Linked DNA regions of Homo sapiens. The protein of the gene in region 1 purifies or fractionates together with the protein of each later gene. This does not show direct contact. Each region holds a gene or a part of one and is shown on either strand. Other genes may lie near its edges.

Region 1 (3,500 bases):
CATGTTTGCATGCATGTGCATGTATGTGTGCGCATGTACGTGTCTGTGTGCATGTGCCTGCATGCATGTCTGGGGGTGCGTGTGCATCTGTGTGCGTGCCTGGGTGTGCGTGTGTGCGTGCGTGCGTGCGTGCATGTGTATGTGATGTGTATGTGGTGTGCGTGTGTGTGCGCGCATGTCGGTGTGCGTGTGTGTGCGTGCATGTGTATGTGATGTGTATGTGGTGTGCATCTGTGTCTGCATGTGTCTGTGTAGCATGTCTGTATGTGTATGTGGTGTGCGTGTGCGTGTGTGCGTCTGTGTGTGTGCATGTGTACGTGGCATACGCGTCTGTGCATGTGTGTGCATGTGCGTATATATGTGCAAGTGCGTGTATGTGTGTCTGCGTGTGTGTGGATGTGTAGGTGACGTGCATGTGTCTGTGCGTGTACGTGTCTGTGTGCACGTGCGTGTATGTGTGCGTCTGCGTGCATGTGTGCGTGCGGTGCAGGGAGAGAGGCGGGAGGGGTCGTGAGCGGCGGATGCTGGGGCAGAGAGCAGGACGGCGCCTCCCCCGCGGCGGGCAGCTCACCTGGTGAAGCGGACCTTGCAGATGTTGCACTCGTAGGGCTTCTCGCCCGTGTGGGTGCGGATGTGTCGCGGCAGCTTGCCGGCGCCCTGGATGACCTTCTCGCAGATGGGGCACTTCTGGAAGGCCTTGGCTCGGATCTTCTTCTCCACCTTCTGCGACCAGGCCGGGTAGACGTCGCCGTCGTGGGCGCCGCTGAAGTACTTCAGGTAGTAGTCCATGACGCCCTTGTCGTCGGCCCGCGACTCCTCGTCGCTGTCCCCCGCCGCGGCCCCCGCCCGGCCCACCGATGACATCATCTGCTGCAGCAGCGTGCTGGCCGCCAGCCCGTCCACGTCGGGCCCGTCCCCGTCCTCGCCCTCGGCCGCTCCCGACAGGAAGCCCGGAGAGTCGCCCGGCTCGGGGGCCGCCTCCGACAGCGAGGCGGCCTCCTCCTCTCCGCCGCGGCCGTAGTGGCCGTTCTGCGTGGCGGCCGGCGGGGCCACCGGCGGCGGAAAGAGACCCCCGGTGGGGGCGTCCTCATCCCGCTCTGGCCACAGACCCGGGTTGCTGTCGCCCTCGTCCCCGTCCCCCGTCGGGGGCCGCTCGGCCGGGGGGCCCGGCCCATAGAAGTCTAAGCCGTTGCAGTCGCCCGCGGCCACGGCGGCCACAGCGGCGGCCACGGCCTCCTTGGTGGCATCCAGGTCATCATCGGACGCCCCAAAGGCGGACCACGGGAAGCTGGCAGCGGCGGCGGCGGCCGCGGGGGGCAGGCTGTTCATGGGGTTGCTCTGGAAGAACTCGAGGTACTCCTTGGCGCGGAGGAGGTTGCGCTGATCAATTTGATCTACAAGGTCCAGCTGCCCGGCGTCGGCGCCCGCGTCGGCCGCCAGGATCTGCCGGTCCAGGAGGTCGGCGCACACGTGGCTCACGGCGGGGATCTCCAGCAGGCGGGCGGCGCTGAGGATGTCACCCACGTTGGCTGTGCTGACGGTGAGCGTGGCCGTGTAGGCGAAGTCCATGAGCGCGGTGAGCGCCTCGGCGCTGACGAAGTCGATCTCGTACACGTTCTGCTGGTCCACCACGGCGCCCGACGTGAACAGCTTCTTGAAGTACTGGCTGCAGGCGGCCAGCACCGAGCGGTGCGTGGGGAACTCGCGGCCCTCCACCAGGATCACCACGTCGCACAGCAGGCCCTGCGTCCGCTGCTCGTTCAGCCCACTCAGGATGTCGCTGCTGTGGTCGGGGAACGGGATCCCGATGGGGCCGTCCACGCCGCCGGCCATCTTCCGCGCCGAGACCTGCAGCAGTGGGGAAGGAGAGGGCGCTCGTGAGTGGGGGTGCGGGGGTTCCTGTGCCCACTGACAAGGGCCCGAGGCCCTTGAGAAGCAGCGTTCCACCCTGCTCCCCCAGCCTCACATTCCCACCTGCACGTGAAGGCGGTCAGATGTCGCGCCTTTCCAGCCCCAGCTTCCCCAGCTGTGCACCAAAGCGATACATGCCCTGCCTCCAGCCTCTTTTCTTTTTTGTGTGTCTTTAATACAGAGACAGGCTATCACCATGTTGGCCAGGCTGGTCTCAAACCCCTGGCCTCGGCCTGGCGCGGTGGCTCACGCCTGTAATCCCAGCACTTTGGGAGGCCGAGACAGGCAGATCATGAGGTCAGGGGATGGAGACCATCCTGGCTAACACAGTGAAACCCCGTCTCTACTAAAAAATACAAAAAATTAGCCGGGCGTGTTGGCGGGGGCCTGTAGTTCCAGCTACTCGGGAGGCTGAGGCAGGAGAATGGCATGAACCCAGGAGGCAGAGCTTGCAGTGAGCTGAGATCACGCCACTGCACTCCAGCCTGGGCAACAGAGCAAGACTCCATCTCAAAAAAACAAAACAAATCAAAAAACCCTGGCCTCAAATGATCCAACCGCCCCTGCCTCCCAAGGTGCTAAGATTACAGGCATGAACCACGGCACCCGGCCAAGACTGTTTTCCATCTGTGCATGAGGATAGCCAGATGTCCCGGCTCCCCAGCCTCAGTTTCCCCAGCTGTTCCCAAGTGCAGTCAAATGTCCTATCCTCTAGCCTCAGTTTCCCCAGCTGTGCATGAGAATGGTCAGATGTCCTGCCTCCCCCAGCCTGTTTCCCCAGCTGTACACAAAAGCAATCAGACGTCATGTCCCCAGCCTCAGTTTCCCCAGCTGTACAGGAAGGCAATCAGGTGTCCCACTCCCAACCTGTTTCCCATCTGTACACAAGGGCGGCCAGCTGTCCTGCCCCCAGCCTCAATTTCCCCAGCTGTGCATGAGGACAGTCAGGTTTCCTGCCCCCCATCAGCCTCAGTTTCCCTAGCTGTGCCCAAGAGCAGTCAGATGCCCTGTTCTGTCTCATCAGCGTGAGATGAGGCTGGCAAAACCCACACTGGACGCTTAAATTTCACAAGCACACTGGCACCACCCCTCCGAGGAGGGCCCCCGGGAATGCCTGTTGAAAGGGCACTTTGAGGCCCGGCTCGGTGCTCACGCCTGTAATTCTAGCATTTTGGGGAGGCTGAGGTGGGCAGATCACTTGAGGTCAGGAGTTCAAGACCAGCGACCAGCCTGGCCAACATGGTGAAACCCTGTCTCTACTAAAAATACAAAAATTAGGCTGGGTGTGGTGGCTCACACCTGTAATCCCAGCACTTTGGGAGGCCGAGGCGGGCAGATCACCAGGTCAGGAGATCGAGACCATCCTGGCTGACACAGTGAAACTCTGTCTCTACTAAAAATACAAAAATAGATGGGCGTGATGGCACGTGCCTGTAATCCCAGCTACTCGGGAGGCTGAGGCGGGAGAATCGCTTGAACCTGGGGGGTGGAGGTTGCAGTGAGCCGAGATTGCACCACTGCACTCCTGCCTGGGCCACAGAGCGAGACTCCGTCTTAAAAAAAAAAATCAGCCAGGCGTGGTGGCGCGT
Region 2 (3,500 bases), on another chromosome or scaffold:
AACGTTTTCTAAACCAATCATCTTTGTAAAGGATGAAGAGGTATAAAAAACTTGAAACTGAACAGACTGTTGTCACTTTGAAGATAGTAAATAGAGCTTCAAAAATTCTCTCTAAATTGCATTTAAGTGTAAATAGCAATGCGTCTGTTAACAAATCCTTTGAGGAGAAAAACATTTTAACAAAATTAGACAGTTAAGGAGTAGGTTGAAAAATTTGAACTTTTTAGTTGGGTAATGCTTGAGGGAAAGGGGCATTTAGTGGACTGGCTTAGTAAGAACAAAGGTTCTATCTCTTCTGTGCACACGAATCTGAAAGGCACTCTCTAGCCTGTATATCCTATTGTGGTTGTAATTTGGCAATGATGAGAGAATGGACTGAAGTGGAAGTATTTCAGAATCTCCAGGGCAGTGTGAAGTCTCCTCACCTCGACCTGTGTCCACAGCACACACATTAATGCTTATGCACGTACTTGCTGATGTGGGCACCCCCACCACCTCCACACACACACAGTGCCAGAGGTCTCTTGGGTGGACTGGGACAAGAACAGCTGAGTAAAGAGTTCCACTTCCTAGGCAGGGTGGTCCAGTTAGGTACTCTATACCGAAGTAGGAACGGCCCCTTCTTACAGAGCTCGGTATAGTATAAGAAGTGTAGTATAAGTTGGGCATCTCAAACATTTCCCTGTATTTCCTTAGTTTTATTTCTTTTGGTAAAGTATCCACTTAAGCATATTCTCAAAATACATCCTATTTTGTTAAAAAGGATTTTAACTCATATCATTTATGTCTAGTGGGGAAAAAAGCAAATACAGTGTTAACCTAATCCAGTCAGTGAACACTTTGAGCCAGAGGTATACCTTAGTTTTGCTTGTCTGTTTTCATGTATTTCGGTGGTTTCTCTTTATTTCCTTACCTTAAATGTTTCAATGAAAACTTCTCAGTATTTTTCTTATATCATTTCCTACCTGATTAGTCTGATGTGCAGGCACATTTTCTGCATTTCCTTTTGTCCATATGAAACAGATAATTTATTTGCATTGTCTATTACCAGACACACTATGTTCTATTGAGGTGTGGGAAGTTATAAATAAGTTATAAACACTTTTTTAGGGTATACTAATAGTTGTTTTTGTATTTCCAGCAATTCAGTTTGTTCTCAGTGATGAGTTTAGTCATCTTCGTCCAGAACAGCGGTTGGCTTTATTGCATGTGAGTGAGACTGCTTTAAGACATTATTGATATTACATATATTTTAAAAATAAATTTTCCATGCTGGTTAAAAAAGCATTTGTTCAAGTTTCAGATTCTTTGTGAACAAGACACAATCTTTCTCATAAGTGTGTTACTCTGCTGTGAAATTTAGCCTAACATATTAATGCCAGATAAAAGCCCAATTTTTATACAGTGGTTTAGGAGAAAATTATAGGATTTGCCTATAGATGGATATGTCCTCCATATAAATGTCTTAAAGGAGACATGATATATATCATAAGTGTTTTATTCTGCTGTGAAATTTAGCCTAACATGTTAATGCCAGATAAAGGCCTAATTTTTATGTGATGGTTAGGAGAAAATTATAGGATTTGCCTATAGGTGGGTATGTCCTCCATGTACATTTCTTTAAGGATGTGATCTGCAAAGGCTTAAGAAGCAGGTTTGCTGAGGAGAAAGAAGAGTTTGAGGTTGCAGATTAGGAACTTTAAGATGCAGAACCAAAAATTAATTGGGAACATAGAGAAACAACCATTGCAAACTAAACAACATACAAGTTGTTTGTTGTTTTAGCCATATTTGTACTTAGATAGTAAACATCATTTTCCAGTATGAAAAACAGTAGAGATGTTCTGCAACTTACAGCGGGGTTATGTCCTAATAAACCTATCATAAACTGAAAATACCATAAGTCAAAAATGGACATTAGCCTACAGTTGAGCAAAATGATCTAACACAAAAGTCTGTTTTATAATAAAGTGTTGAATCTGTCATATAATTTATTGAATACTATGCTGAAAGTAAAAAACAGTGATTTTATGGATACTCAAATTATGGTTTCTACTGAATGTAGACTGCTATCACGTTGTCATTCAGCCATTTGTTGAACCATCGTAAGTTGGGGACCACCTGTATATTTACAGTAATGTGAGTTAGGATATTTTATTAAGTGGGTCCTTTTGTAATGCATAAGCACGATGATTGGGTTTTCGTGTTCATGTGAGTCATGCCTCCCTCAAACCTTGTTAGGACATTGGCACATTACCAATGTGATGTGGAAAAAAATATGAGTAATGGACTAAAGTAATTTTAGGATAGAAAATCATGAAAGACTACAATAAAACGATTAATCCTTCTGATTTGAATATTGTTTATTAAAGACTAGAAAATGAAATTCCTCAACATGTCTTAACAGTGTTTCTCACACATAGGAAATTGTTTTGTTTAGCTCTTGTCTGTCTTTTCCCCTTGTTTAGTTTGAATTTGTAGCCCAGTAATCAGAATTGATTTCCTTTAGAAAAATTCTTTTTAGGTTTTTCAGATTGGCATTAAAATAATTAATAACCTCTTTGGTACAGTTCTTCATTGTATTTACTACATAGTTTCTATAATCTGGAAGGTATCTGGACTTGGTACCATAGTTTTTGTGTCATAGATTGGTTTAAATGTGACACATGTTAAATGTGTATATTTCTATAATAGATTTAAAACTGTAGAATGTCTCAATTTTTCTTAAAAAACAGACTTTTGGTAATTATCCCATGATTTATTAGGATTTCTTTGCAGCATTAAAATGAGACTGTAAGAGAAAAGCCTCATGGTGTATTAGATATTAGCAAATAGGTAGAGTTAAATGTCCCCAGTCTTGCAGTCTAATAAAGTGGTCTGTAGAATCATATTTAAGGATATCTAACTTTGACATGTCTTGCATAGCTCTTATTTTTTATTTAGAATCAAAAGCTATTTGGTTGAGAAGTTTTGTTGTCCTAATCTAACGTCTCTGCTGTTTTGGCAAGAGGGATATATACTATAACTCTGGGGATATCCCCAAAGTATGTATCCCTCTTGCCAAAAGAGCAGAGACGTTAGATTAGTGTGTGTGTGTATATATGAATCTAGCAGAAATTTTTCTCCATTGAATCAGACTTGTTATTATGCCCTAGACTTTAAGAATCCTTTAAAGGATATGAATATACAACTTAAATGGCAAATTTCTCACTTCTTTCATTTTTAGGAAGGTACTGGTCCTCGTGTTATTTCTGCTTTTGTGGAGATTATTTTTGATAATTCAGACAACCGGTTACCAGTAAGTAACTTTTTTTTTAAAGTAATGTTGAGAATTTAATTGGTTTAGCTGATTTTCTTCATACTTTGAAACTTTTTAAGCTTTTATAATTTGTTATAATTACAGTTTATATACTGATTTTATCTTAAAATGACAATGAATACTCTGTTAACAAATGGGAATGTACAAACTGTTGTGAAAAGTGTCTTGGTTAAGAGTATTG

What was found. Proteins that work in one complex are often made in the same cells at the same time.
Region 2: the proteins of ZBTB7A (region 1) and SMC3 purify together in Homo sapiens (affinity purification with mass spectrometry, with the first as the bait; one large-scale study listed by BioGRID). This does not show direct contact.

What each region holds. Positions count from the first base shown.
Region 1 is NC_000019.10:4,053,400-4,056,899, forward strand, and holds part of ZBTB7A (zinc finger and BTB domain-containing protein 7A), read right to left. Parts: intron 2,123-3,500; exon of another isoform or gene 2,110-2,122; coding exon of another isoform or gene 1,975-2,109; intron 1,849-1,974; coding exon of another isoform or gene 1,834-1,848; coding exon 572-1,833; intron 1-571. UniProt on the Homo sapiens protein: Transcription factor that represses the transcription of a wide range of genes involved in cell proliferation and differentiation.
Region 2 is NC_000010.11:110,574,195-110,577,694, forward strand, and holds part of SMC3 (structural maintenance of chromosomes protein 3), read left to right. Parts: intron 1-1,141; coding exon 1,142-1,209; intron 1,210-2,165; exon of another isoform or gene 2,166-2,267; intron 2,268-3,226; coding exon 3,227-3,298; intron 3,299-3,500. UniProt on the Homo sapiens protein: Central component of cohesin, a complex required for chromosome cohesion during the cell cycle. The cohesin complex may form a large proteinaceous ring within which sister chromatids can be trapped.